Linked DNA regions of Homo sapiens. The protein of the gene in region 7 purifies or fractionates together with the protein of the main gene of each other region. This does not show direct contact. Each region holds a gene or a part of one and is shown on either strand. Other genes may lie near its edges.

Region 1 (4,652 bases), on a different chromosome or scaffold from region 7:
CACAGTAGTATGTTAAGAATTTTGCCAATGCAGTCTTTATTCCAAGGCTTAACTTACTGCGGATGGAATGCTAGGTAAAGTGGAGCTTAGCTAACCCAAGACCCTCAGCCACCATGGTCAAGGATAGGATCTGGAGAAGCTGCTTGCTAGTCAGCTCCCAGCCACTGAATGCTTAAAAGAAGTCCATTTGCTGGCATGTCCCTGTCTTCCCACACTTAGAACAAAGCTTATCTTTGAATTTTCATGACTATCTGCTTTAAGAGGGAAGGTCACCCAGACTCAGGCTCTCAGCCTACCCCAACACCAGGCCTCAGTCCAGCTCTGCATCCCTAGTCATAATGCCTGCACCCACAGACCCAGCCTCCATGCTGGCCCCTGCAGATACAGACTCCGGGCCCACCCAGCATCAGGCCAGCAACTATGGCCCCAGAATCCAGTCCCACCCTAGGTTCCAGACAAAACCAGAGCCAGGTCTGCCCACATAGCCCAGTGCCAAATTGGCACCCCAATGGCACCCAAATTGGAGCCTGCAGACACAGGCTCCAGGCCTGCCCAGTGCCAGGCTAGTCTCTATGACCACCCCCACCTTCAGGTTGGCCCCTGCATTCCCACAATCCAGCAGACCCTGGGTCTAGCCCAACCCAGTAGACCCCAGCATTGGGCCGGCCCTCAGAACCCCAGGACTGCCCCTATGGACCTAGGTTCTAGGCTGAGGCCTGTGGCCCCAGGACCCAAGCCAGCCCTAATGAACCTAGCCTTCAGACACATCCATCAGACTCAGCCTCCAGGCCCATTTCAGTGGACCCGGGCACCAGGTTCATCCTAGCACCTGGCCAATCTCTGAAGACCCAGGCTCAAGGCCCAGTCCAGCCCCAGGTCAGCCCTTGTGGACCTAGGCTTTGGGATAGCCTCTCTGCACAAGATACAAGCACCAGGTCCATGCCTGAGGATCCAATCAACAGGTACACCCCAGTGGATCCAGGCTTCAACCCCAACCCCACGGACTCAACACCAGGCCACCCTGCCTAAGGACTCTACCAGCAAGTCTACCTGCAGATCACACCAAATGGCCTACCCAGAATCTCTGGGCAGGCTGACTGGTGAATGGCTTTTCCGGACAAAGCCAGAATGCAAAAACCATTCACCAGCAAAAGTCCCTGCTTCTTCAAATGCACAGATACCAATGCATAGCCATGAGGATCAAGAACAATCAAGGAAACATGTTGCCACCAATGAACAAAATAAAGCACCAGGAACAGACTCTAAAGAAATGAAGATACGGCCGGGCGTGATGGCTCACGCTTGTAATCTCACACACTTTAGGAGGCCAAGACAAATGGATCACCTGAGGTTAGGAGTTCAAAACCAACCTGGCCAACATGGTAAAATCCTATCTCTACTAAAAATACAAAAAATTAGCCGGGCGTGGTGGCAGGCGCCTGTAATTCCAGCTACTCAGGAGGCTGAGGCAGAAGAATCGCTTGAACCCAGGAGGCAGAGGTTCCAGTGAGCCAAGATCAAGCCATTGCACTCCAGCCTGGGCAACAAGAACAAAACTCCATCTCAAAAAAAAAAAAAGAAAGAAAGAAAGAAAAAGAAGACACATGAACTGCCTGACAAAGAATTCAAGATAACTGTTTTAAGGAAACTCAGCGAACTTCAAGAAAATACAGAGAAACAATTAAAGGAAACCAGGAAAACAATAAATAACTAAAACAAAAAATTTACGAGAGATTGAAATTATATTAAAAAAATCAAACAGAAATTCTACAGCTGAAAAATACGAGAATTGAAATGAAAAATGCAATAGAGAGTATCAACAGCAGAACTGATTGAGCAAAAGAATGAACCTTTGAATCTAAAGACAGATTATTTGACAATATACAGTTGGATGAGAAAAAAAGAATGAAAAGAAAGCAAGCTTATGGGATTTATGGGAACTGGAGTTCAAGAAGGAGGAGACGGACACAAAGGGATAGAAAGCTTAAAGAAATAATAGCAGAAAACTATACAAATCTGGGGAAAGTTATAAATATCTGGGTACAAGAAGGTCAAAAGTCTCCAATCAGACTGAACTCAAGTAAGACTATATCAAGAAGTATTATAATCAAACTATCAAAAATCAAAGACAGAGAGGATGCTGGAAGCAGCAAAAGAAAAAAAGTACATCACATTATAAGGGAGTTCTAACAGATTTATCAGCAGAAACCTTAAAGGCCAGAAAAGAGTGGGATAATATATTCAAAATGCTTACGGAAAACAAAAACAAAAACAAAAAAAAAAAAGGTCAACCAAGAATATTGTAGTTGGCAAAGCTCTCCTTCAGAAATGAGGAAAAAACAAAGACTCTGCCAGACAAAAGCTGAAGGAGCTTATCCCCACAAGATCTATCTTATAAAAAATGCTCAAGGGTGTTCTTCAAGTAGAGAGCAAGGGACACTATTCAGTAACACAAATATACATATATATATATATGAAAGTATAGGCTAGGTGCGGTGGCTAACGCCTGTAATCCCAGCACTTTGGGAGGCTGTGACAGGTGGATCACCTGAGGTCAGGAGTTCGAGACCAGCCTGACCAACATGGTGAAACTCCACCTCTACTAAAAATACAAAATTAGCTCGGCATGGTGGTGCATGCCTGTAATCCCAGCTACTTGGGAGGCTGAAATGAAAACTATAAAACATTGATGAAAGAAATTGAAGAAGACACAAATAAAATGAAAAGATGTCCCGTTTATGGATTGGAAGAATTGATACTGCTATAATGTCCATACTATACAAAGCAATCTACAGATTTAATACAATCCCTATCAAAATTTCAATGACAATTTTCACAGAAATAGAAGAAACAATTCTAAAATTCATATGGAACCACAAAAGACCCCAAATGGCCAAAGCAATTGTGAACAAAAAGAACAAAGCCAGAGGCATCACAGTACCTGATTCCCAAATCTACTACAAAGCTATAGTAATCAAAACAGTATGTTACTGGCATAAAAACAGACACACAGACTGATGGAACAGAATAAAAGCCCAGAAATAAATCCACATATTTATGGTCAATTTTTTTAAACAAAGATGCCAAAAAATAAAACACACACACACACAGGTCAAAGGACAAACACAAAAAGGTCAAAGGACAATCTCTTCAATAAATGGTGTGGGGAAACTAGATATCCACATGCAAAACAGTGAAATTAGACCCTCATCTCACACCTCACATTTACAAAAATCAACTCAAAATGCACTGAAGACTTAAACATAAGACCTGAAGCTGTAAAACTACTAGAAGAAAACCTAGGGAAAAAGCTCCATGACATTGGTCTGGACAATGATATTTTTGGATATGACACCAAAAGCCCATGCAACAAAAGTGAAAATAGACAAATGGGATTACTGAAAGTTTCTGTACAGCAAAGGAAACAACAGTAAAGAGACAATCTATGTAATGGGAGAAAATATTTGCAAACCATATATTTGATAATGGGTTAATATGCAAAATATATAAGGAACTCAACTCCACAGCAAAAGAAAACCCAATTTAAAAATGGGCAAAGGATATAAATAGACACTTCTCAAGAGAAGACAGAAAAATAGTCAACAGGCATATGAGAAAGTGCTCAACATCATTAAACATTCAAGAAATGAAAATTTAAACCACAATATCACCACATCTGTTAGAATGGCTATTATCAAAAAGACAAAAGGCAATAATAAGTGTCAGCAAGGATGTAGAGAAAAGGGAACCCTTATATACTATTGCTGGGAATGTAAACTAGTACAGTCACTATGGAAAACAGTATACTGGCTCCTCAACAAATTAAAAATAGAACTATCATATGATCCAGTAATCCCACTACTGGATATATATCCAAAAGATAAGAAATCAGTATGTCAAAAAGATATCTGCACTCCCATGTTCACTGCAGCATTATTCACAATAGCCACACTATAGCATCAATCTGAACATCCATGAATGGATGAATAAAGAAAATGTGGCACATATACACAACAGAATAGTACTTAGCATTTTTTTGTTTTTGGAGACGAGGTCTCACACTGTCACCCAGGCTGGAGTGCAGTGGCACAATCTCAGCTCACTGCAGTCTCCACCTCTTGGACTCATCTCAGCCTCCCACCTCAGCCTCCCAAGTTGCTGGGACTAGACACATGCCACCATGCCTAGCAAATTTTTGTATTTTGTGGAGACAGGGTTTCACCGTGTTGCCCAGGCTGGTCTTGAACTCCTAGGCTCAAGCAATCCACCTGCCTCGGCCTCCCAAAGTGTTGGGATTACAGGCGTGAGCCACCATACCTGGCCTACTGAGCTTTCAAAAAGGAAATCCTGTTATTTATGACAACCTAGATGAACTTGGAGGACATTATGTTAACTGAAATAAGCCAGGCACAGAAAGACAGATACAGCGTGATTTCACTTACATATGGAGTGTAAAAAGGTCAAGCTCATTAAGAAAATAAAATGGTGGTTATCAGAAGCTAGGGGGATCAGGGAAATGCTAGTCAAAGGACATAAAATTTCAGCTGGATAGGAGGAATAAATAAGTTCAAGAGATCTATTATACATTATACAGACTATAGTTAATAACAGTATGTTGTATATTTGAAAATTGCTAACAGAGTACATTTTAA
Region 2 (4,652 bases), on a different chromosome or scaffold from region 7:
GAAATAATACAAACCCTAACACCAGGTCTCCGGGATTTAGAAGATGTCCCAAATGAGTACGACAAAAATACTGTTTATCTGTATTCATTTCAGATGTCTTCTGTACCCAGACTTCCCCGAGGGTATGCTTAAGAGGAAAGAAAATGTACTCTTCAATAATCTAAACATAACTCTAAAAGCATCTCAGAGAAAAGTTAAATACAATATTGATTTTTGGTTTTCTAATTTTTAAAGACAGAAAATTTTTTGTATTTTTCTGATGTATGAAACACTGTCAAAATTAACAAATTACTGAATCATGAGTATAGAAAGACTCACAAACAATTCATAAAAATAAATCATTGACTTTTTCTAAGATTTTATTCAAGACTTTTATAAAACATTAATAATGTCCCTAAAAATATATATATGTAGAATTTTCAAAAGAAATGTTTTCACAGGAAGATGGGCCAACATAGGCAGAGTGAACAAAATAACTGAAAAGGTAGGGGAATCTTAAAGCAAGAACGTATTCCAAGCAAACTCTTGCTTGACACAAGGGTTCAGAAAATCAGGGTCCAGACAAAACAGCCTAGAAATCCTGGTAGTAAACCACTAGAGAGGCCAAATCTTTATCAAATTAATTTTTAAAGTATCTACTAGTGTAGACTACAATCATTCTCTACATCTGCTATATATAATATAGTACATCTGCTATATATAATATATATATAGCAGAAACAACATCCCAATTTTTAAACTAGAAAACTATTAATTCCCTTTCTAACATGCCAACACCTTTAACAACAAAGACAGACCAACTGAAGTGAGATCGAGAGAAAAATACTAAGAGTTATAAATAAAATTAAGGAATCTCAAAATAAAGTTATGAAAAGAATCAAGTGTTTCTTATTGCAGTTGGTCAAAGAAAAAGAAATGAAAAAAATGAAAAGAAATAGAGCAGAAGGAGAAACTGAAATAAAAGACAAGTCTCAAACTTAAGAACTGCAAAAGAAAAGTCAATTAACAGGGAGACTACATTTTATTTAACAGGATTTACTTTCTAGCTATTAGACTTCTGCTTGTAAGAAATTTATTAACCTCTTCTAGCTATTTTTTAAAAACCAAGAAAATACAGTATCTGGTTTTATATCTGCCTGAAGGGAAATGATACTCTACATTTATTATAAATGAAAAGTTTGCCCTAAGTACATTACCTTAATTTATAAATAAAATGTAGAATGTCATCTGTCTTCCATTTCCATTAATTTTTCCCAAATTATCACAAGTTATTTTTGTCTCAAGAAGCATTATTAGCACGCACACACACACACACACACAAGGGTACCCTGGGAGTCTCTAGATACTATTTCACAGTAAAAGAAGCCAGACTTTCATCTTTGAAGAAACATTTGATTTCAGATATGGGTTATAAACTATACATGTGATTCTGGAACACCTGAATGCTGTGTTGCACCAGAAATCAAGGATGCTTTCAAAGACCAGGAGAGTCACGTCAAAACAACATAGGAACCATTCTGAAGGGGCTCCCATTGAATAAATTTAGGGCAATATGAGGATTTCAAAAAAAAGAAAGGGCAGGCGCTCATGCTCATTCCTATAAGGGAGGCAGTAGGATCGTTTGAGACAAGCCTGAAAAAACAGTGAGATTGACTCTACAAAAAATTAAAAAATAGAAATGAGACAGGTGTGGCAGCATGCTGAGGTGGTAAGATCACTGGAGCACACAACCTCAAGGTTCCAGTGACCTATGATCATACCATTGAACTCCAGCTCTGAGAGACAGAGTGAGACCTTGTCTCTTTAAAAAAAAAAAAAAAAAAGGAAAAGAAATGAAGGGAGAGGAGGAGAGAAGAAGAAAACAAAAGAAAATACAGTAAATGATACAATACTTATACTTCAGGAGATCACAATGATAATCACAAAGAGAGACACCACCTGTACATGTAAGCTAATTTTCACCACTGGAAATGATTCCTAGATCAACTCTTTACTCTAAAAATATTTGCTAAAAGAATTAATAATTTATGCATAGGCCAGGGGAGGTGGCTCACGCCTGTAATCCCAACACTTTGGGAGGCCAAGGCAGGAGGATTGCTTGAGCTCAGGAGTTCAAGACCAGCCTGAGTAACATGGAGACCCCATCTCTACAAAGAAATTAAAAAATTAGCTGGGCATGGTGGCACATACTTGTGGTCCCAGCTACTCAGGAGGCTGAGGCAGGAGGATCATTTGAGCCCAGGAGTTTGAGGCTGCAGTGAGCTATGAAGCCATACCGCACTCCAGCCCAAACAACACGGCAAGATCATGTCTAAAATTAATTAATTAAAAGAATGTATGCAGGCGAGCATTTCAGGAAAGCTACATAACCCCTAGTTAATAATGAAAAGCTCTTCTTTAAGAATGACAGCTAGTAAATGTAGAATAGAAATAGAAAATTCACCATTTTGTAACCCTGAATAAAATAATTAATTTATGGGCAAGAATTATCAACAGATGCTAAAGCCAGAAAAAAAAAGAGGTAACAGGAACTCAGTACTTGCATATTATTATAGTATTAAGCCACAGATTGCTTGCTGGTCAGAAGGAAAAAAAATCATAACATTACAATGGAGGAATCTGACTATCACTATGTTAACAAGTGAAACAGTCAGACATTACTTGTCTCTTGATATAATAAAAAGTACATGGCATCATCTCTGAAATATTCTGGCAAGAAAAATTTAACCTAAATGTAACCAAACCTTTAGATCAACTTTCCAGTTTAGAGGAAACACAATGAATTAAGAAGCTAGTTAAATGGCATCATGAGGAAACAATTAGATAGATTTAGAAGGTGGAGTATTCTACAAGATAAATGCACTAGTTGTCTAAGGAAGTTGGTATCATAACCAATAAAAGAAAAAAGAAGGGGACTATTATTAAATAAAAGACTAAAAAGGTATAATATTCCCATTTAATGAGTGGTCTCCAATTGAATACCTGTTTGAACAAGGCATAAAAGACACTTTTGGGACAAATGAGGAAATCTGAACACAGTAATCCCCCCCTTATCCATAGTTTCCCTTTCAAAGTTTTCATCTGCCCACAGTTAATCGCTATCCAAAAACAGGTTGGTGGAGTAGAATTAGATAACTTTAAGAAAGAGACTACATTCACACAACTTTTATTACAGTATATTATTATAATTGGTCTATTTTATTATTAATTATTGTTAATCTCTTACTGTGCCTAATTTATAAATTAAACTCTATCATAGGTATGTATGTATAGGAAAAAACAATACACATAGAGTTTGGTACTATTGTGGGTTGTTTCAAAAATCCACTGGGGGTCTTGGAATGTATCCCCATGGATAAGAGCAGAATACTGTGTAGACTGTATGTTTTATAGGTATGGTAACAACATTTTCATTATGTAGAAAAATATTCCTGTGTGTGAGAGATGCACACTGAAGTATTTAGTATTTGGTGATGACTTTTTAAAAGTCAAGATAACCACTACAAAAATAAAGGTCCTCCTCTATAAAAATAAAGCAAAGAAATGCCTTTTTTAAATATAATGGAATAAACATTTAAAAGATTTTTCCTACACAAAAGAGAATAAATTAACTTAACAGTCTAAGTCTAACAATTTCCACAATGACCACATATTAAAAAGACAAAAAAAAAAAGAATTTTTTTCCTAATGTGGTGCTAAGTTTGGATTCCATACTGTGGAAACACCAACAAATTTTTTTTAAAAGAGGGACTGAAACAATAATAACTGAGGGGAAAAAAAAATACACTGGCAGGCAGGATGTAGCTTACCTTTTTTGATATCATTCCAGCACCTGCAGCACGTTTTATATCTTGGACTATGCTGCATTCCATCACAATAAACTCCTCTAGCTGTTTGGGATGACATAAACTATTGAAAGGGTGACTCCAGAAAGTGCTCCCATCAATATCTGCCACTAAAAATAAGGATAGAACACAAAAACATAAGAAAAATTATATATTTCAATTATCAAATGTATTAACTAAGAATAAACTGGTAGATACCAACTGGGAAGTGGCAGGTCAACAGAACTAGTGTCAACTCACTCCTTAGGGTCATCAATTACTCCTATAAACCAATCCCAAACTTCTCAAAGCACAAGAAAAATATATCAGATGTCAAACATATCTTAAATAGTTACTATAACCAGAATGCCACAGGGCTAAGTGCCTCTTAAGTAAGATCAGAGCCAATCAGTGGTACAGCTGTTTCACGTGCTGGCACTTTATTTTAGAAACGTATCTGTCACCTTAGCTGCTTAGTTTATGGGAAATAAAGCCTAGTTCTACCAGATAGGTAAAGAATGTCCATCCCAATATTGCTAACAGATCTTTAACTTATGAATCCTAACTGATAAAGATAATGAATGACTTTGAAAAATATCAAAATAAACTCACTTTTTGTATAAAGGAAACTTATATTACAGAAAATACATGAAAAAGATCAAGCAGAAGATACATCCAAATACTAAGATACCTACCAAAATGTGGTCTTCCTTAAAAAATAATTTATTCTATAGACAATGTTAAAAAATGATCTACAGTAATAACAAAATTGGTTAAAATTCATATTCAAACTAAATGTTCCAATGGGCCACAAAAAGCCAAATGTTC
Region 3 (4,652 bases), on a different chromosome or scaffold from region 7:
AGGTAGAGATATGTGTGCTGGCAACCTGAAAATATCGCTATTTTATTTAATGAGATTTGTGGGAAGGGAGAGAGAAGAATTTTCTCAAGATTTGGAACATTTTAAGGAGGGCCAGTTCTCTGTAACTGTATAGGGCATAGACATCGAGTAATTCACTGATGTGAAAATATTTCACCATCAAATGAGTTTGTGAATGAGTTGATATTGTTTTGAGGTGATGGAAGAATATATGGAGTTTTTTGCCTTGTGAATTATGTATGATTTAGTCTGTAAACTTTACTTCTGGTTTGAATAGGATCTTCCTCAGGAAATGGAAAAGTTGCAACAGCTCCGACAAGGTACTACGATGATATATATTTTGATTCTGATTCCGAGGATGAAGACAGAGCAGGTAAGTAACCTATTTACCAGGTTTAGCAGTTATATTTTATAAAAAAGGTTTACCTAACAATTATTAGATGTTAGGATTTCCCTCTGAGTTTGGTCTTTTAAGAAATTACAGCTAGGCATGGTGGCTCACACCTGTAATGGCAGCACTTTGGGAGGCTGATGCAGGCAGATCACCTGAGGTTGGGAGTTTAAGACCAGCCTGACCAACTTGGTGAAACCCCATCTGTACTAAAAATACAAAAATAAGCCGGGCATGGTGGTGCACGCCTGTAGTCCCAGCTACTTGGGAGGCTGAGGCAAGAGAATCAGTTGAACCCAGGAGGCGGAGGTTGCAGTGAGCTGAGATTGCACCATTGCACTCCAGCCTGGGCGACAGAGTGAGACTGTCTCAAATAAATAAATAAATAAATAAAGTGGATGCCATTGATGTGAAAACAAAAGCAGGATTGATTAATAAGAAAAACTGGGGGCTGGGCATGGTGGCTCACGCTTGTAATCCCAGCACTTTGGGAGGCAGAGGTGGGCAGATTGCCTGAGGTCAGGAGTTCTAGACCAGTCTTGCCAACATGGTGAAACCCCATGTCTATTAAAAATACAAAAAAATTAGCCAGGCTTGGTGCCATGCACCTGTAATCCCGGCTACTCAGGAGGATGAGACAGGGAAGTTGCTTGAACCAGGGAGGTAGAGGTTGCAGTGAGCTGAGATCGCATCATTGCACTCCAGCCTGGGCAACAGAGTGAGACTCCGTCTCAAAAAAAAAAAAAAAAAAGCTGGGGACACAGGCATGTGAGGACATGGCACCAACAGTGGTGCTGCTTGGATGTACCTAGGGAGTGAGAGAGAGTGTGTCCCAACTCAATACCTCCCCTCCTCAGGGCTTTTCCCCCCTCTTCCTTTAGGTTTCCTATAGTAGCAATATTTGTTTTCATGCCTGAAAATAGTTTCTATGTTTTAATCCTCCTGCAGAATTTTTTTTTTTTTGAGATGGAGTTTCGCTCTTGTTGCCCAAGCTGGAGTGCGATGGCACCACCATCTTGGTTCACTGCAACCTGTGCCTCCCGGGTTCAAGCAATTTTCCTGCCTCAGCCTCTTGAGTAGCTGGGTTTACAGACGCCTGTCGCCATGCCTGGCTAATTTTTTGTTTTTTTAGGAGAAACGGGGTTTCACCATGTTAGCCAGGCTGGTCTTGAACTCCTGACCTCAGGTGATCCACCCGCCTCAGCCTCCCAAAGTGCCGGGATTACTGGTGTGAGCCACCGCGGCCTGGCCTCCTCCTGCAGAATTTTTCTTAATGCGTTGATTTTTAATCAGCCTCTATGTTCAAAATTGAATTTTTCTTTCTTTCTTTCTTTCTTTTTTTTTTTTTTTGAGACGGAGTCTCGCTCTGTCACCCAGGCTGGAGTGCAGTGGCGCAATCTCAGCTCACTGCAAGCTCTGCCTCCTGGGTTCACGCCATCCTCCTGCCTCAGCCTCCCGAGTAGCTGGGACTACAGGCGCCCGCCACCACACCCGGCTAATTTTTTGTATTTTTAGTAGAGAAGGGGTTTCACTGTGTTAGCCAGGATGGTCTTGATCTCCTGACCTTGTGATCCACCCACCTCGGCCTCCCAAAGTGTTGGGATTACAGGCGTGAGCTACTGTGCCCGGCCTGAAAATTGAATTTTTATAAAATTTGAGCAAAGTTGAACATAACAAGAGCTAAAACTAATTATTTCAGTAATTACAATGAAATATTCAAATAGCAAATTTCTGTGGTAAAGAACAATATTATACTTTTATGCATTGTTACTTAAATATTGACCTGTTAGAATGTATGTGTTTGTTTATTTATTTATTTATTTTGAGACAAAGTCTCGCTCTATCGCCCAGGCTGGAGTGCAGTGGCGTCATCTCAGCTCACTGCAAGCTCTGCCTCCTGGGTTCACACCATTCTCCTGCCTCAGCCTGCTGAGTAGCTGGGACTACAGGTGCCCGTCACCACGCCCGGCTAAATTTTTGCATTCTTAGTAGAGATGGGGTTTCACTGTGTTAGCCAGGATGGTCTCGATCTCCTGACCTCGTGATCCGCCCGCCTCAGGCTTCCAAAATGCTGGGATTACAGGCATGAGCCACCGCGCCCAGCCTTGTTTATTTATTTTTTAGGCAGAGTCCCACTCTGTCACCCAGGCTGGAGTGCGGTGACACAGTCTTGGCTCACTGTAGCCTCTGCCTCCTGGGTTCAAGCGATTCTGGTGCCTCAGCCTTCCTGGTAGTTGGGACTACAGGCACAAGCTACCATACCCGGTTACTTTTTGTATTTTTAGAAGAGACAGGATTTCGCCATGTTGGTCATGCTGGTTTGAAACTCCTGATCTCAGGTTGTCTGCCCACTTTGGCCTCCCAAAGTTCTGGGATTACAGGCATGAGCCACCACTCCCTGCCTGCTAGAATACATTCAAAAAGTCTAGTGTATGTAGATGGCCATAGTTTTTTTTTTTCTCTTTTTTTTTGTTTTTTTCCTCTTCCTTTCTTTCTTTCTTTTTTTTTTTTTTTTTTTTTTGGTAAAGATTGGGTCTTGCTTTGTTGCTTAGGCTGGTGTCAAATTCCTGGCTTCAAGCAATCCTCCCAAAGTGCTGGTATTACAGATGTGAGCCACTGTATCTGACCTCATACTGTTTTTTTTAATTCACTTTTGAAATATTTTTGTTCTAATTTTAGTAGCATTTTATATATATATTCATACATCATAAATAATTTCTATTCTTGGCTTGTTTTGAGTGGCTCTTTTGAGTCTCTGAATTCTCATTGTTTGAACTTAGTCCTTGAGATACCAGTTTTGGGTAAATAAACAATTTTTGCCTCCTCTGTCATTTTAATGCCTTATTAGTTGGAGAAGAACTTTATTTTTTAAATTTTTGTTAAATTTTTTACTTTTTTAGAGATAGGTCTCACTCTTACCCAGTCTCCAGCAGTGCAGTGGTGCAATTATAGCTCACTACATCCTCAGACTCCTAGGCTCAAGCCATCCTCCCAGCTCAGCTTCCCTAGTAGCTAGGACTACAGGTGTGCCTGGCTAATTTTTAATTTTTATTTTTGTAGAGATGGGGTCTCATTATGCTGGCCAGGCTGGTCTTGAACTCCTGGCCTCAAGCGATCCTCTTGTCTCAGCCCCTCAAAGCTCTAGGATTATAGGTTGTGAGCTACCGCACCCTACCTGGACAAGCACTTGTTTAGATGAAGGGTTTTTTTTAACTTTTTTTTTTTGAGACGGAGTTTTGCTCTTGTTGCCCAGGCTGGAGTGCAATGGCGTGATCTCGGCTCACCACACCCTCCACCGCCTGGGTTCAAGTGATTCTCCTGCCTCAGCCTCCCAGGTAGCTGGGATTGTAGGTGCCTGCCACCACGCCTGGCTAATTTTGTATTTTATTTTATTATTTTCTTTTTCTTTGAAACGGAGTCTCGCTCTCATCACCCAGGCTGGAGTGCAGTGGCACGATTTCGGCTCACTGCAACCTCTGCCTCCTGGGTTCAAGCAGTTTTTCTGCCTCAGGCCCCCAAGTAGCTGGGATTACAGGTGCCTACTACCATGCCCAGCTAATTTTTATATTTTTAGTAGAGAGGCGGTTTCACCATGTTGGCCAGGCTGGTCTCGAACTCCTGACCTCAGGTGATCTGCCCACCTTGGTCTCCCAAAGTGCTGGGATTACAGGCGTGAGCCACCGCACCTGGCCCTAATTTTGTATTTTTAGTAGAGACGGGGTTTCGCCATGTTGTCCAGGCTGGTCTCGATCTCCTGACGTCAGGTGATCCACCCACCTTGGCCTCCCAAAGTGCTAGGATTACAGGTGTGAGCCACTGCGCCCGTCCCTTTTTTAACTTTTTAGGGAAAATATAAATAAATGTGTAGCTTGGGAAATGAGACTCTTCATTTAAAGAAGTGTGAACTTGACACATGATTCTTAGCCATATCCTAATATTTTCAAAATTAGTACAGGTGACCAAGAAAAAAAAGAAGAAACAACACAAGATTCCAACAAATGACGAATTACTGTATGATCCTGAAAAAGATAACAGAGATCAGGCCTGGGTTGATGCACAGAGAAGGGGGTAAGAACTTAAAGTTAATATTTAGAATCTTTAGAAAAAAAGATTGAAAGATGATTTTTACTACATTCACATTTTGAATATATGTGTATATGTTTACACAAACACACACACACAAACAAAAAAGTTAGAGGAAAAAACTGCTCAGTAGTTTATTTTGAAAATAACCAGCAAATTT
Region 4 (4,652 bases), about 37 Mb from region 7:
GAAAAAAAAAAAAGTGTGAAAAAAACTGAATCTGAACTAGTTCCCACCACTGTGACTGCATCAGCTAGAGTCCACTAAAGGAGGATACAATCTAGCTTATTTGAAAACAGAAGCCTGTCGAGGATTGTTTGCAGATTGTCCAGAGCTGCCAAATTCTAAGCACATCCAGAAAAACTCACTCCTAAACTCTCTCTTTTTTAAGAAATCTAAGTCTGATAGTAAAAGTAAAAATGTAAGCCAGATGATAAAAATGAAAGTTGGTAAAAACATAAAAATGTAAGCCGGATGGTAAATGATTTAAAGATTAAAGATGTATATGAATGTGTTAAAACTATTTAAATGCTAATGATATAAAATTGTTTTTAAGACAATTTATAGACTCTACTTTTTTTTAAAGATTAATGCGGCAGGGCTGGGTGGCTCACGCCTGTAATCCCAGCAACTTGGAGGCCAAGGCGAGTGGATCACATGAGGTAAGGAGTTCAAGACCAGCCTGGGCAACACGCTGAAACTCCGTCTCCACAAAAATACCAAAATTAGCCAGGCATGATGGCAGGTGCCTGCAATCGCAGCTACTCAGGCGGCTGAAGCAGGAGAATTGCTTGAACCTGGGAGGCAGAGGTTGCAGTGAGCTGAGATCGTGCCACTGCACTCTAGCCTGGGCAACAGAGCAAGACTCCGTCTCAAAAAAAAAAAAAAAAAAAAGATTAAGTAATGCAATATTAAATTCACTGTTTTTAATAATGTAACTCAACAACAGCATTCAACTTTAATAATACTTCTAACTCCAATCTCCTTGGTTTATAATGGCTCACTATATGAATCTTGAGAGCTTAAGAACATTTTGGCTGGGCACAGTGGCTCACACCTGTAATCCCGACACTTTGGGAGGCCGAGGCGGGCGGATCACGAGGTCAGGAGTTCAAGACCAGCCTAACCAACATGGTGAAACCCCGTCTCTACTAAAAATAAAAATAAAAAAAAAAAAATAGCCAGCTGTGGTGGCACGTGCCTGTAGTCTCAGCTACTCGGGAGGCTGAGGCACGAGAATAGCTTGAACCTGGGAGGCAGAGGTTGCAGTGAACCTAGACTGCACCACTGCACTCCAGCCTGGGCAACAGAGCAAGACTCCGTCTCAAAAAAACAAACAAAGAAACAAACAAAAAAGTAACAGAGCTAGAAGAAGGAAGGGGATTAGCCTCAGACATACCTGATGAGGAAAATGGGAGCTAAGAAGTTGAACCTGTCAGTTTCATAGCCCTGTCCCTTGATAGCACTACTAGCCCAAGACATTCCACCTGCGGGGATACCGGGTTAACTGTAATCTTGGGGTGCCCGAGACAATACTGGCAGCAATTCATCAGGTACACAGGGCATGTTCACAAGGGAGGCATTCACAACTCACAATGATGCTTGTTAGAGCAGAAATCGTTAGTCTGACCTCTATTTTCAGGTCTTTGACTTGTCTTATCAAAACTCCCAATAAACAGTTTTTTGTTTTTTGTTTTTTTGAAACAGAGTCTCGCTTTGTCGCCAAGGCTGGCGCCATCTCAGCTCACTGCAACCTCCACCTCCCAGGTTCCAGCAATTCTCCTGCCTCAGCCTCCCAAGTAGCTGGAATTACAGTGGCCGCCGCCATGCCCGGCTAATTTTTTGTATTTTTAGTAGAGATGGGGTTTCGCCATGTTGGCTAGGCTGGTCTCGAACTCCTGACCTCAGGTGATCCACTCGCCTCAGCCTCCCAAAGTGCTAGGATTACAGGCATAAGCCACTGCACCCGGCCTAAACTCCCAATAAACAGTTCTTAAGTAAGGTAATGACAAAAGCCTAATATCAACTTTCCGCCACTCTTCAGTAATTGCTCTAAGAGCACACACAGTAGCTGTATAAGCATAGATTCTCTACCCCCAAATCAGCATGCACTTCACAAGTGTAAGCTTTCTTACTAATGGAATATACTTGGAATAAAATAACTCCATAACTGAAGCAGATGCTTGAACCTACAGGCATCATTCTCAATAAATGGCAACTTAAATTCAATGACAAAAAAGCAATTATGAGCACCTTGCTAACAAAATTTCAGAAGCAATCTGGATCACAGACTAGACACACCTGGTTGAAAGCAATGTAGCTGCAAATACAGACTGTTAAACCTTACTGAAAAGAAAACTGACTCGTCAAATTATTAAAATTCCTATGTCTGGTTGCATTTATGTCCTTATGAATACTAAATTTTATTTTTATATATTTTATCATTTGACAGCTGCAATATTTTGGGACCCTAAACATTGTAACTTATCAGTGATAAGTGTTCAAATTCATTCTCTAAACTTAAAACTTCTGAATCAAAATCTACCTACAATGTCACTTAAACTCTAAATTTTATTTTTCTTATAATGCTAGTCACAAATTAATTCATCACCATCATTAAAAATTCAAAGTAGGCCAGGAGCAGTGGCTCACATCTGTAATCCCAGCACTGTGGGAAGAGAGGCAGAGGTTACTTGAGCTCAGGAGTTCGAAACCAGCCAGGGCAACATACCAAGACCCTGTCTCTATTAAAATTTGAAATAAATAAATAAATATTAAAACTATACAGATGCTACAGAATTGTGAAAATCTCTCCTTTCTGTCTCCACACAGGTTCCAACCCCTTTCTCAGAGATAACTACTGTTATTCCCATACACACACTCCCAGTCCTTCAGCTATAAATTTTTCTACAGGCCAGGCACAGTAGCAGATACCTGTAATCCCAGCACTTTCGTAGGCCAAGGCGGGAGGATCATGGGCAGGAGTTTGAGATCAGCCTGGGCAATACAGGGAGACCCTGCCTCTACCAAAAATAAAAAATTAGGCATGGTGGTGCATGCCTGTAGTCCCAGATACTTGGAAGGCTGAGGTGAGAGAATCACTTGAGCCCAGGGGTTCAAGGTTGCAGTGAACTAGTCAATATTATAATTATGGAATCACATTCTACATTTAAGATTTCTTTAAAATTAAGTATTATTTGAGATACATTTTCTTTTTTCTTTTCACCAGGGGTCTGCTCTGTCGCCCAGGCTGGAGTACAGTGGCACAATCCCAGCTCATTAAAACCACCACCTCCTGGACTCAAGTGATCCCCTCATCTCAGCCTCCCAAGTAGCTGGGACCACAGGCACATGCTAATGTGCCTGTAATTTATTTATTTATTTACTTATTTATTTTTAATTTTTGAGATGGAGTTTTGCTCTTGTCGCCAAGGCTGGAGTATAGTGATGCGATCTTGGCTCACTGCAACCTGTCTCCCAGGTTCAAGCAATTCTCCTGCCTCAGCCTCTGGAGTAGCTGGGATTACAGACGTAAGCTACCACGCCCAGTTATTTTTTTATTTCTTGTAGAAATGAGGTCTTACTACATTGCCCAGGCTGGTCTCGAACTCCTGGACTCAAGCGATCCTCTTGTTTCGGCCTCCCAAAGTGCTGGGATTACAGGCATGAGCCAATGCATCCAGCCAAGGTACATCTTCTACAATCCTAAAAGCACATATAAAGGCCAGATGCCGTGGCTCACGCCTGTAATCCCAGCAATTTGGGAGGCTGAGGAGGGTGGATCACTTGAGGTCAGGAGTTCGAGATCAGCCTGGCCAACATGGTGAAACCCCGTCTCCATTAAAAATACAAAATTCCTAGCCAGGCATGGTGACGCGTGCCTGTCCCAGCTACTCAGGAGGCTGAGGCAGAAGAATCACTTGAGCCCAGGAGGTGGGGCAGAGGGTGAAGTGGGCCGAGATTGCGCCACTGCACTCCAGGCTGGGCGACACAGTGAGACTCTGTCTCAAAAAAATAAAAAATGTAAAAGTAAAATAAAATAAATCACACATACAAAAATAACATATGGAGTGAAACAATTAAGACTTTCAATTATTTGTGTGTTTAATTGGTTCATGTCTCCCCTACTTTACTGTAACTATTGCCACTAGAAGGGGCTCCATGACACGTCTCTTGCACATTTAACATTCTGGAGCTCAAATCACTAGTTAAGTCATGACATCTCTATACATTCCCTCACAGTCAACCTATGTCATCATCTTTCTTGAGAAAAAAAAGCATGTACTTCCTGCTCACAATCTTCAAATATTCCATCTCTCTCTCTTCTGACCATTCACATCAGACTACAATTTTTCATCATACTGCCAAGTCAAACCCTCTGGGTCCACTGTGCTCTGACTCCTAGTCTCTGAGCATCTCTACACTGAACTATGACAGCCAAGGAGAACTCATCTATCCTATCCATTTCGGTCCACTTTCGGATGGGCCCTCCGAACTGCTGACCAATCCTATTAATTCATCACTTGCTTAACTTTCAAACTTCTCCCAGATATTATTTTAGAGTCTAAGCTACATACTACTCTCAAATCCTCATTTTCTCTTCCCAGCTTCTTTTTCATTTTTGGTAGATTCTTACTTTATAGAATTAAAGTCTTTTTTTTTTTTAGACAGAGTCTCGTTCTGTCACCCAGGCTGGAGGGCAGTGGCGCTATCTCAGCTCACTGCAACCTCCACCTCCTGAGTTCAAGCGATTCTCCCGCCTCAGCCTCTTGAGCAGCAGCTGGGATTACAGGCGTGTGTTACCACGCCTGGCTAATTTTTGTATTTTTAGCAGTGACAGG
Region 5 (4,652 bases), on a different chromosome or scaffold from region 7:
ACAATAGAATACCACATAGAAATTTACAAGAGCCTATTACTGATACATGAAGCAATGTGAGTAAGTTACATAGAAAATATTGAATGAGGGCCAGGCGCGGTGGCTCACACCTGTAATCCCAGCACTTTGGGAGGCCGAGGTAGGTGGATCACTTGAGGTTGGGAGTTCGAGACCAGCCTAACCAACATGGAGAAACCCCATCTCTACTAAAAATACAAAAATTAGACGGGCATGGTGGCGCATTCCTGTAATCCCAGCTACTCAGGAGGCTGAGGCAGGAGAATCGCTTGAAGTCAGGTGGAGGAGGTTACAGTGAGACGAGATCGCACCATTGCACTCCAGCCTGGGCAACAACAGTTAAACTCCATTTCAAAAAAAATAAAAATAAAATAACAACCAGAGTCTATTTAGCTCTTATTATGTACCAGGCACTGTTCTAAGCACTTTATATATATTAATTCATTTTATCCTCATATCAACCCTATGATCCAGAAAGTTTACAATGAGAAAACTAAAGCATGAACTGGAAAAGAAAGAGAGAAAAAGAGAGAAAGAGAGGGAGAGAGAGAAAGAAAGAGAGAAAGAGAGAAAAGAGAGAGAAAGAGAAAAGAGAAAAAGAAAAAAAAAAGAAAAAGAAAAGAAAAGATGGGCCAGACTGGTGGCTCATGCCTGTAATCCCAGCACTTTGGAGGCCGAGGCGGGCAGATCACCTGAGGTCAGGAGTTTGAGACCAGCCTGACCAACATGGAGAAACCCCATCTCTACTAAAAATACAAAATTAGCCGGGCATGGTAGCACATGCCTGTAATCTCAGCTACTCGAGAGGCTGAGACAGAAGAATCGCTTGAACCGAGGAGGCGGAGGTTGCAGTGAGCCGAGATTGCACCACTGCACTCCAGCCTGGGCAACGAATGAAACTCCATTTCAAAAAAAGAAAAATTGAAAAGAAAATAAACTTGTACAGATAAGTGAGTGTAGGGACTCAAACCCAGGCAGCCTGATATTAGAGTTCCTGTTCTTCTCCACTATGCTATACTGTATCTCAAAAGGCAGAGGAATGAGCAGGAGCAGAGTCATCTATACATAAACAAAGCTGAGGGCCTACAGAGAAACTGTGAAGAGGTTCTAGGTGAGTAAGGGGGAGTATGTACTCATGGGCTTTAATGAACAAACTGTGAAATGTCTAGATATCTTGAGTAGCCACCACTCTAGTTTGTCAGTGGATGAAGGTGCCATGGTAGAAAGTAAAAGATAATTGTCTGATGTAGATACATCTGTCTGTAAATGTAGGTAATAGTAAAGTGAAACAGACAGAAATAGACAAATTCACAGGAATGGCAGAAAACTTGGAGGGAAAAACAGGAGAAGAATCTGAGTGTCTAGTCAAGTTGATAGATGTATCCAACATGGTAATTTTTTTAAGGATAAAACACCCTAATGTCCACTACAGGATTTAATTGATTTTTTTTTAAACTCTCCCACTATCTTTGAGGATTTTTAATTTTTTTTCACTATTTTAATTGAGTATAGTCAGTGTTCTGAGGATAATTCTCCCTCAACTTTATAATGAATAGAAAGATACTATAAAACAGGACAGAAAAAAGAAATGGAAAACAAGTCAACTAAGAGTCTGTACAATCCTCAGCTTAGGAGGGAGTATGTTTTAATACTGATGAGCTGTGATCCCCTATTTCAGAATCTCCTGGGGTGCCTCCTAAATATGTAAATTCTTAAGCCTTCCTACCATTCTATTGAACCAAACTTTTTTTTTTTTTTTTGAGAGACAACCTCTCACTCTGTCACCCAGGCTGGGGTGCAGTGGCATGATCTCGGCTCACGGCAACCTCCGCATCCCAGGCTCAAGTGATCCTTCCACCTCAGCCTCCCAAGTAGCTGGGACTACAGGCACACACCACCACACCTGGCTAATTTTTGCATTTTTTTGTAGAAACGAGATTTCGCCATGTTGCCCAGGCTGGTCTCAAAACTCCTGAGCTCAAGTGATCTGCCCACTTGGCCTCCCAAAGTGCTGGGATTACAGGCATAAGCCACAGTGCCTAGCTTGGGTCTACATTTTTAACAATCACTCCAGATCAGTGATTCTCAACTGGTGCAATTTTGCCTCCCAGGGGACATTTGTCAATGTCTGGAGACATTTTTGATTGTCACAACTGGGAGAGGAGGTACTACTGGCACCTACTAGGTAGAGGCCAGGGATGCTGTTAAACATCATACAATACTCGAGGCAGCCTCCCACAACAAAGAATTATCCAGCCCAACATGTCAATATCAAAGAGGTTAAAAAGCCCTGCCCCAAGTAATTCTGATGACCATTAAAGTTTGAGAAGTACTCATCCCAGCCTTAAACCAGACTTGGAAAAGGAAGGAGTATCTAGACAGATGATACTGAGAGAATAAATGAAACCTCTGCAGTCTCTAAAAAGGGCGTTGAAGCAACACTCACCTTATCACATATCATTCTCCCCACATTAAATCACACTTCCTTTGGGACTGTAGCCCATTTCCCCATATGTGAAAGAAGATCACTACAAGACACACTGACTATAGTATCCACAATACTTAGTGATGGAGATGAAAATCTTATGTAGCTATCTGTCCAAGAGTTGTGGCTAAGTCAAAGAAAATATTACCATTATCTGACCATGAGCCATTCACCCAATATACAAAGGAGGCAACACGTTTTTGTTTTGTTTCATTTTGAGACAGTGTCTCACTGTGTCGCCCAGGCTGGAGTGCAATGGCACGATTTCAGTTCACTGCAACCTCCGCTTCCTGGGTTCCAGCAATTCTCCTGCCTCAGCCTCCCAAGTAGCTGGGACTACAGGCGCATGCCACCACACCCAGCTAATTTTAGTATTTTTTTGTAGAGTCAGGGCTTCACCAAGTTGGCCAGGCTGGTCTCGAACTCATCTTAAGTTATCCGCCTGCCTCAGCCTCCCAAAGTGCTGAGATTACAGGCATGAGCCACCGCACCCAGCTGAGACAACATGTTTATATCAAGCCAGCAATAGTCCCCTACCCTGACTTTCCAGTAAGTCTCCTGTCCTGATCTCCTAAAAATTCCCTAGTTTCTCTAGATACAGGGTTTTTTAAAAAACCTTTACGCAAAAGTTACCTGCTCCCTAAGCCTCTCTGCAGGACCTAACATACTACCTGGAGGTAAACATTAGCACTATAAGAACTTAAGGAGAATGCAGTTTTTCTATCTCCAAGCCCCAGCCCTTCAAGCTATCTCCTAATATGCCTCTCACTTTCTTTTTTTTTTTCCTTTGTGAAGAATGTGGGCATCATTCTTTCTTCTTTTCTAAAAGCCCCAGGTATTTAGCTCACTTGCTAGATCACATCCTACTGTTCCACATGGTTCCTTAGCACAGCTTCTTTCAGTAGCATGGGACAGGTTCCCCCACTTCCATCCAAAAGACTGGCTCTAAGACAAGCAAATAACCCCTTTCTATTTTAATGAATTTCTACTGCTAGTTCACTCCAAGGATTCTATAGATCCAAAATGAAAATAGGGCTGGCACGGTGGCTCACGCCTGTAATCCCAGTACTTTGGGAGGCTGAGGCGGGCGGATCACTTGAGGTCAGGAGTTCCAGACCAGCCTGGCCAACATGCAGAAACCCCGTCTCTACTAAAAATACAAAAATTAGCCACGCATCGTGGCAAGTGCCTGTAATCCCAGCTACTCAGGAGGCTGAGGCAGGAGAATTGCTTGAACCCAGGAGGCGGAGGTTGCAGTGAGCCAAGATCGCGCCACTGCACTCCAGCCTGGGGGATAGAGCGAGACTCTGTTTCCAAAAAAAAAGAAAGAAAGAAAATAGAGTAGGGCCTGCAACTTTTTTTTTTTTTTTTTGAGATAGGGTCTCAAGGCTGAAGTGCAGTGGCACAATCATGGCTCACTGCAGCCTCAGGGATCCTCTGACCTCAGCCTCCTGGGTAGCTGGGACTACAGGCACATGCCACCAGGCCTGGCTAACTTTTCATATTTTTTGTAGAGATTGAGTTTCACCATGTTGCCCAGGTTGGTCTCAAACTCCTGGGCTCAAGCAATCCTCCCACCTAGGCCCCCCAAAGTGCTAGAATTACAGGCATGAGCCACTGCACCCGGCCCCAACCTATTTTTACAATGAGGATATTACTTTGCCCAAAGTAACACAACTAGTAAGTGATAAAGCCATTAAATCTTTCTCTCTGGTAGCGCTTCTCCCTATCAGAATGTCCTGTTAGTGCAAAACATCAGGAGCTAACTAGACCATTAAAAACCAGATTCACTGTAATCCCAGCTACTCGGGAGTCTGAGGCACGAGAATCGCTTGAACCCGGGAGGCGGTGGTTGCAACGAGCTGAGATCGCGCCACTGTACTCCAGCCTGGGCGATAGAGCCAGACTCAGTCTCAAAAAATAAAAAAAATAGAGCCAGGCGCTGTGGCTCATGCCTGTAATCCCAACACTTTGGGAGGCCGAGGAGGGCAGATCACAAGGTCAGGAGATTGAGACCATCCTGGCTAACACGGTGAAACCCCGTCTCTACTAAAAATACAAAAAAACAAAAATTAGCCAGGCGTGGTGGTGGGCACCTGTAGTCCCAGCTACTCGGGAGGCTGAGGCAAGAGAATGGCTGAACCCGAGA
Region 6 (3,500 bases), on a different chromosome or scaffold from region 7:
ATAAAAGACCTCGGCCTCCCAAAGTGCTGGGATTGCAGGCATGAGCCATCGCACCTGGCTAGATTGTTAAATCTCATAAATTCCCTTTCCTTCACACCATCAACCCTGTGTTTCTGCTTTTTGTTTAAATAGTATAATCCCTCTGGAACGGAAAAGCATTGTTTGGGAACATTATTAGTCCCTATACCCACAAGGCAGGACAAATCACGGTGTACTTTTGTAGCATCACACACAGGATCATATCTTGGGAATTTCCTTTGGGAGAATTCCTCAAACGAGCCACAGCCTCAGGGGTGCCACATTTTTTTAAATTAAAAACTTCAAAAAATTTTCAATAGCTTTTGGGGTACAAGTGTTGATATGGTTTGGATTTGTGTCCTGCCCAAATCTCATGTTGAATTGGATGAGGGTCCTGATGGGAGGTGATTGGATCATGGGGGCAGATTTCCCCCTTGCTTTTCTCATGATAGTGAGTTCTCATGAGATCTGATGGTTTAAAAGTATGTGGCAGTTCTACCTTCTCTCTCTTTCCTGCCACCATGAGAAGAAGGCCCTTTCTTCCCCTTCACCTTCCGCCATGATTGTAAGTTTCCTGAGGCCTCCCAGTCATGCTTTCTGTTAAGCCTGAGGAACTGTGAGTCAATTAAACCTCTTTTCGTCATAAATTACTGAGTCTCAGGTAGTTCTTTACAGCAGTGTGAAATGGACTAATACAAGTGGTTTTTAGACACATGGATGAATTGTATGGTGGTGAAGTCTGAAATTTTAGCGCACCCATCACCTGAGTAGTATACATTGTACCCATTATGTAGTTTTTTATCCTTCACTCTCCGTCCCAGCCTCCCACTTTGAGTCTCCAAAGTCCATTATATTATACCACTCTGTATGCTTTTGTGTATCCGTAGCTTAGCTCCCATTTATAATGGAGAACATACAATATTTGGTTTTCCATTCCTAAGTTACTTCACTTAGAACAATGGCCTCCAGGTCCATCTAAGTTGCTGCAAAAGATATTATTTTGCTCTTTTTTAGGGCTGAGTAATATTCCATGGTGTATATATCCACCACATTTCTATCATCCAGGAGTGATGCAACTGAACTGGTATTTTTTCCCTACACTAAGTCTGTCACTTTACTACCTACTTATTTATTTCTTTTTGTTTTCTAGAAGTTCCTCCTGCTAGTTTAATTGGTAAAAATATTTTAAGACCTCACCCAGGTCAATGAATATGTTGGCGATTTAAATTTAGACATGTAGTATTGGTTTGAAAAAAAAGGTTTGGAGTGAGGATTCAGTAATTCAGGCCTTTGGGATCCTGGGATAACCTGAAGAGTTATCCCAGGATTCCAGAGAATCTTAGGGAAATGTATCTTTGTCATGCTAAATGGTTTTACCCAAAGAGACCCAGGGTGTGGATGGCTCTCCCTCTAGCACCAAAATATATGGCAGCATGGATTTAGGATGCCTATGGGAAAAAGAAGCCACAGCAAAGGCACAGTCAAAATGAATGGCTAAAAAAAATTCTCATAAGCCGTTAAAACTATCTTATGCCACTTCAATTGCTGTAAATTTTATAAAGAGTTAATAGAAACACATTTTTGGTGAATTGATCATTTGACAAATTGATTGCCTCTGGGAGGGCTTGTTGGGTCAGCCTCGTGTGGACCTATTTGTCTGCTGATTGTTTCTGGGTTCCCAGCTGGGCAAGGTGTCTTTGGGGTGGGTTCAACTGGCCATAGACTACCTATCCAGAAAGCTTCCTACACTATGCCCACATGGCCACAGTTTCACCAGCCAGATGGGAAACAGTATGCAATTCAACACCTTCTGCTGGTTCAAAAGGCAATCTGTCTTAATTGGATGTTATCCAAAAGCAGGTCAGAAATCACCCTGATAAGTGAAAAATCCACTCATGGTGATCACTGATCCAGGATAATAATAACCAGTCAATTTTGTATAGCTATTCAGCTGATCTATGGCTCATCTGAGTCCATGGATTTAAAAAAATGTTGTGCCAATGTTTACTGGCATGTAAACAAAATTTTTTATTTCCCTGTGTGTTTGTGTGTGTGTGTGTGTGTTTTAATGGAATGCTTCGCGAACGTGCCTGTTGTCTTTGCACAGGGACCATGATCATTTTCTTTGTATCATTCCAATTTTGGTATATGTGCTGCTGAGACGAGCACTATTTCCTAGTATTGACCAAGGTCTAGAATGTAAGAAAATGACTTCCTAGAGAAAAAAAACCAACTCGTTCAAGAAAGCTAGTAAACAAGTTAATTGTGAAGGCAGAATAACAACATAGAAATTTCACAGACTGTTAAGATTAGTGGCCTTTGCACCTAGGCTTGCTGTCTGTTTAGCGTTAGTTCCTTCCATGCATATATAGATTTTCTGTCTTGTGCATTTTATTATCTTGCTGTAGACTCTCCCCTTTCTAGTCTCTCTCTTAGTCTGTATCAATTGCTGTCATTTGATATCTTTTATTGATGCTGATTCTACTGAAATGAGTAGCTGCATAATAGACTAGTTCGCTTGATGTTAAATGTTGTTCTGTGCAACTAATACCCTTGTGGAGTTGAGAAATATGCTTGTGAACACAGAAATGAGTGATTTGCAGACTATCTAACTGTGTCCCAGCAAACCAGGCTGCTTAGCATCACTCTGATGTTAGTCCTTTGATTGAACTACAAAGCGTGAGAAGCACTTGTATCTAAGGTTAGATACAGTTTGGATATTTCTTCTGTATATTTCTTTAATGAGGATCAGCAGATATGGGAGTCTGATAACATATTTTATTCTGATTTACTCACAAAGGAGATGGATAAGACTACTATTTCAGAACATCTTTTCACTGAGGACCTTTAAAGCATTTACTGTGGATTAGACATTAATCCTAACCTATCTAAGACAGACCACAGGTACTTTGATTTCAAGAGAGAAGTACTGAGGCACAGAGATCAATACATCACGTACAGGCCACTTTGCTGGCTTGTGAAGCTCACAGTTTACATTTTCAGCTCTCTGGGCCCTGAATTCTTGAATGTCTTATTCCTTGTTTTTCACTAACCTTCCTAATATCCTTTTCCCTCTGCAGAGGAAGTCACTGGCAGCCTCTTTTATTTTGTGCATATGCAAAAACCAAACCAAAACAACAAACCTAAACCAACCAAACAAAAGTCATTTTTTTTTTTAATACCAGCTGAGGCATTGCCTCTTTTAAAAATTAACGTTTTTATTTTGAAATAAAATCTACAGAGAAATGGGTAATACTTGCATTTACAATTTAGCAAATGGTTTTGAAGTGTTTACTCTGTAACTATTCCCTTCCCACACATATTGTTGGCACCAGGAATCTCCCACCTTGTATGTTTTTGCATCGAAACTTCGCCTAATTTTTAAAATTGAATATTTTCTTTTTTTTTTTGAGACAGAATCTCGCTCTGTCACCCAGGCTGGAGTGCAGTGGTGCGATACCAGCTCACTGCAACCTCTGCCT
Region 7 (4,652 bases):
CCCAAAGCACTGAGATTACAGGTGTCAGCCATTGCACCTGGCCTTTCTCTATCCTTCTTTAAGAATGGTAATTTACTGCTCCAGGGAATTTTGGGAAAAACAGGTGATTTTTGGTGAGTTACGGATCACTGGGAAGAGACCCTAAACACATATACACGCATGCATTCGAGCACACACACGCACACATGTGCATAGACAAATAAAATTAGGCAAGGAGACAAAATATTATTGAAAACAAAGTACCCACACAGACAAAAACAGATGCAGCACATCTTTGTGTGGCTTTCCATGCTACCAAGTCCCCAATGGGGACTTCACAACTGCTGATGACACAAGCCCAAGGAAGTGACATGCCAGATCTGTACAGCTCAATTCTTACTGCATTTTCATAATCAGGGTTTGAAGCACCATTCAGGAAGCACTGACAGCAACCCATGTGTCTTCATGTAGAGAACGCGACCACAACCAGGTTCTTAAGTTCCTGAGCAAGGCTTGGCATCAGCAGGGAATGGGCAAGAGTGAATCACAACTCTGCTCCCAGCATTCTGGGGAACTCATTTTCCCAAAACCTGAAACTACGAAGAAGGCATCGTTCTTCCTGGTAGAAGGCCTGGCTATTAATGCTTTATGAGAACGAGTGAAGAGCTTTGTACAAACATAATGCCCAATATTTCCCCACTGGCTTGTTCTTGGTTTTGTTCCCTAAATTATGCTCACTAAATTCAAACAGACCAATAATCAGATACTCCTTTAAAATGACACTAAACAGCGCAAGGATTAAAGTCTACTTTATACTCTAGATTGTAGACCAAGGATAGAAAATCAATTTTTTTTTTTTTTTGAGACAAGGTCTCGCTCTGTCACCGAGGCTGGAGTGCAGTGACACAATCATGGCTCACTGCAGCCTCAACCTGCAGGATTCAAGTGATTCTCCTACCTCAGCCTCTCAAGTAGCTGGGACCACAGGTGCATGTCACCACAACCAGCTAATGTTTTAATTTTTTAATTTTTTGGTAGAGATGGGGTCTCACTATGTTGCTCAGGCTGATATTGAACTCCTGGGCTCAAGTGATCCACCCACCTCAGCCTCCCAATTACAGGCATGAGACACCATACCCAGCCCAATAGATTTCTTTTTGCACGCAAAGACTAATCAATCGGTAGAGGCTGCCTGTGCCTGGCAAAACAGAGTTCTGTCATTAATTAATATCTTCCAAGGCCAGCAAGAACTAGGTTTGACATTCCTATCTTAGAGTAATAATGAGGAATAATAATTAGACTTTGACATTTCTCATTAAAGGGTGAGAGGATGCATAATAATTAGCAATGTTAAGCCCATTTTCAAAAGGCAGAGTTAGCCCAGAGATAGCGGGGATTATTAATCTGTTTCTCTTAGTAGAGGAAAGTTGTAACCACCATGGCAGCGGTATTTGAGCTGTTTAGTACCCAGCAGTTTAGATCAGAAACTGCTGTATTTCTTTTTTAATCCCTTATTTTCATTCTGACAAAAACAAAAGTAAAGCAAAAAGACAGATATACTCTATTAGTTTTCCTACTCAATCCCATTTCCAAAAGGCATTATAGACTGAGATAGAGACAGACAGCTAGAGGGAGAGAAATAACTTGCTGTTTCAAATCATCAGAAAATCTGCCAGCACTTTGGGAGGCTGAGGCGGGCGGATCACAAGGTAAGGAGATTGAGACCATTCTGGCTAACACGGTGAAACCCTGTCTCTATTAAAAATACAAAAAATTAGCCGGGCGTGGTGGTGGGCGCCTGTAGTCCCAGCTGGCTTGGGAGGCTGAGGCAGGAGAATGGCGTGAACCTGGGAGGCGAAGCTTGCAGTGAGCCGAGATCGCGCCACTGCACTCCAGCCTGGGCGACAGAGCAAGACTCCGTCTCAAAAAAAAAAAAAAAAAAAAAAAAAAAAAAATCTGAAGCAGCAGTGCCTCCTCTATGTAAACTGCAGTTAAAATGCATTAACTCTTATTTTAAAAACTCCTGGATGGCAAAGAGCTGAAACACTTTAGCCCACCCTTTCCCAGAAAATCAAATAGCAGAAACTATAAATGTATACCTTCCAGACAATACAAATGAGCACACAATGATGACATTGTTATAGGGAGGCCTCAAATACTATGTCAAGGTCGCAATATCTTATCAAGCTTTCTGAAGTGCATGGCTACCTTAATGATAGCAACCCAAGGAGTAAACCATGTGGAGATTTTTAAAAATGTTATTCAGTCATGCATCACTTAATGATGGGGATACGGTGTAAGAAATGTGTGGTGAGGCAATTTTGTTGTTGTGAGAACATCATAGGGTGTACTTACACAAACCTAGATGGTATAGCCTACTATGCACCTAGCTACATGGTATATAGCCTACTACTCCTAGGCTACAACCCTGTACAGCATGTGACTGTACTGAACACTGCAGGCAATCAGAACACAATGGTAAGTATTTGTCTATCTAAACATTGGGAAGGTACAGTAAAAATATGGTTTTACAATATTATGGGGCCACTGTCATATATGTGGGTCCACTGGTGACCAAAATGTTGCTATGGGATGCTTGATTGTATTTCCTTTTTATAATTGGGTGGGGTGGAGGAACAATGTTTTGAAGAGACTCATACACAGAGAAATCCAGCTTATTCTTTCTGCACTAAGGTACAAAAGTAACAAGGAAATGATTAAGATTTATCTTTGTAAATCTAAAATATCATCAGAAACGAAAGCTGGGCATCCACTCAAATACGCTTAAAATGTTGTAGGAGCATGAACACATAATTCAATGATGTCAGAGGAGAACTTAAAAGAATGGACACTTGTTTTTCTCCAAGTATTGCCCTGATGAAGAAAATAATGCCAATAACAGTTTAAACCCAACTTTAAGATGCAAAATAAAGATTTTTCCTAGAGTATCTCTTTAACCTGCATATCTCTCTTTGACAGGTTTAATACCATTACTTGGTGAGTTCAGAAAATAGCGTGGCTTTGACTGTTACAGACGAGCAGTTCATAGAAATGCTTAGAGTTGGCAAGTTGAAGTAGATAAGATAAATTTTTCAAAGTAAATCCCATCCTGCTAATTATGTACCTAATACATCAGTGTGGGTTTCCCCAAATATCATACAATATCCACAAAGACCAAAAGCATAAGGACTGGATCCCAACTGAGCCCACCCATCATGAGGTCAGTAGAAGCCACATGAATTCTAACCACCCCCAAAACATCCTTCTACGGCTCTATTAGCAATTACCCCCAACTTTTCTACATTGACTTTCAGCTATATAGAGCTCAGCACTTCTACCTTCTCTGCCAAGTGCTTGGTGACCCAGGAAATTAGATATTTATATCCTTTAGGTCAAAGATATCAAAGGTCAAAAGTAGAATTATCAACTACCAAGCTAATTTCTAAATTTTCTGAATGTTCTGTGACTTCTTTATAAGCAAGCCAAACTTTATCCTTGTTCTTAATTTTTGTTTTTTTAGTTTTGAGTCCCTTATCATCTATAGCTCAAGTCCTCTACTTTGGAAGGAAGAGGGTGGTGGTGAGAGGGTAGGGTATTAATATCTAAACCATGTGTGAAATACTGCTAAGTGTTTGAATGTTTTCATTTATTCTTCATGGGTAGGTATTATCCCATTTTACTGATGAGGAAAGTAAGGCTCAGAGAAGTTAAATTATTTACCCAAGGTCAACTAGCAAGCATGTGATAGAGCTGGTCCTGGAGCTTAGGTCTCCCTGATCTTAAAGCTCTGCCCTTTGCATTCTTCCTTGTTTGCTCCCTATTTGTTGTAATTATTAGTGGCAGCAAGGAAGTTAGTTAGGCAGGGAAGTAGAAGGAGAACTTTAGGATTGGTGTAAGGTCTTTGTGATTCAGTTCTTAACATTGGGGGCATCATTATTTTATTGGAACTGCATCACACACCCATATTCAAATATAAATATAAAAATGCATTACCAAATTTAACTGGCATTTTTAAAAATTAATAACTAAAAGCAATGCTTATTTGGACTATATTTACCCAACAGGCATATAATTTTATATGTAAGGTTAAACCTTTCCTCAAACAATATCCTCTACCATTTCCCAAAGATAAGGCTTTTATTTTATATTTCTTTTGTATATGCTACAGCTCTGCATACTGCTATGTACCCCAGAGATCTATGTGTGAGTCAAGTTAAAATTAACAGATTTCCTTAATGCTATGTAATCAATACAGTGAAACTCAGTGTGGAATGAAGGTTATACAAAGTTGTAAAGATGTTTCACATCTCTAAAAAAGTTTCCAATTTCTGTTACTTACTCCAACAGAATATAAGCCTCTATCCTGTTTCTTCTTCTTATTTCAAAATGCCTATTACATAGTAGGTGGTCTATGAATGTTTGCTGAATTAAATACAACAATGTCAATATAATGAAATAATTTGATACTATTTATAATGGAACTTTACTTTTGACCAACACTCTTTTCTGTCAGTAGAAAATAAGTCAAAACATTCCATGGATATCAAATGTTACATCAAATACCATGTGCAAGTCCTAAGGCTCTTTGAACAACTTCCTTAAATGATGTAATATCTTTCTCCCAACAATTGGACTGGGTGTCACACTTGTATGCCTTTGAGAGGCACTGGAAT

Evidence for each region.
Region 1: the proteins of TTC27 (region 7) and RIC3 purify together in Homo sapiens (co-immunoprecipitation; one large-scale study listed by IntAct). This does not show direct contact.
Region 2: the proteins of TTC27 (region 7) and NMD3 fractionate together in Homo sapiens (co-fractionation; one large-scale study listed by BioGRID). This does not show direct contact.
Region 3: the proteins of TTC27 (region 7) and EAPP purify together in Homo sapiens (affinity purification with mass spectrometry; one large-scale study listed by BioGRID and IntAct). This does not show direct contact.
Region 4: the proteins of TTC27 (region 7) and GFPT1 fractionate together in Homo sapiens (co-fractionation; one large-scale study listed by BioGRID). This does not show direct contact.
Region 5: the proteins of TTC27 (region 7) and ARMH3 fractionate together in Homo sapiens (co-fractionation; one large-scale study listed by BioGRID). This does not show direct contact.
Region 6: the proteins of TTC27 (region 7) and DNAJC12 purify together in Homo sapiens (affinity purification with mass spectrometry; one large-scale study listed by BioGRID and IntAct). This does not show direct contact.

The regions. Positions count from the first base shown.
Region 1 is NC_000011.10:8,113,042-8,117,693, forward strand, and holds part of RIC3 (protein RIC-3 isoform a precursor), read right to left. Parts: intron 1-4,652. UniProt on the Homo sapiens protein: Molecular chaperone which facilitates proper subunit assembly and surface trafficking of alpha-7 (CHRNA7) and alpha-8 (CHRNA8) nicotinic acetylcholine receptors.
Region 2 is NC_000003.12:161,241,811-161,246,462, reverse strand, and holds part of NMD3 (60S ribosomal export protein NMD3), read right to left. Parts: intron 3,956-4,652; coding exon 3,810-3,955; intron 128-3,809; coding exon 15-127; intron 1-14. UniProt on the Homo sapiens protein: Acts as an adapter for the XPO1/CRM1-mediated export of the 60S ribosomal subunit.
Region 3 is NC_000014.9:34,529,183-34,533,834, reverse strand, and holds part of EAPP (E2F-associated phosphoprotein), read left to right. Parts: intron 1-295; coding exon 296-391; intron 392-4,359; coding exon 4,360-4,477; intron 4,478-4,652. UniProt on the Homo sapiens protein: May play an important role in the fine-tuning of both major E2F1 activities, the regulation of the cell-cycle and the induction of apoptosis. Promotes S-phase entry, and inhibits p14(ARP) expression.
Region 4 is NC_000002.12:69,376,523-69,381,174, forward strand, and holds part of GFPT1 (glutamine--fructose-6-phosphate aminotransferase [isomerizing] 1), read right to left. Parts: intron 1-4,652.
Region 5 is NC_000010.11:102,045,725-102,050,376, forward strand, and holds part of ARMH3 (armadillo-like helical domain-containing protein 3), read right to left. Parts: intron 1-4,652. UniProt on the Homo sapiens protein: Involved in GBF1 recruitment, Golgi maintenance and protein secretion.
Region 6 is NC_000010.11:67,807,189-67,810,688, reverse strand, and holds part of DNAJC12 (dnaJ homolog subfamily C member 12), read left to right. Parts: intron 1-3,500. UniProt on the Homo sapiens protein: Probable co-chaperone that participates in the proper folding of biopterin-dependent aromatic amino acid hydroxylases, which include phenylalanine-4-hydroxylase (PAH), tyrosine 3-monooxygenase (TH) and peripheral and neuronal tryptophan hydroxylases (TPH1 and TPH2).
Region 7 is NC_000002.12:32,812,506-32,817,157, reverse strand, and holds part of TTC27 (tetratricopeptide repeat protein 27), read right to left. Parts: coding exon 4,543-4,652; intron 1-4,542.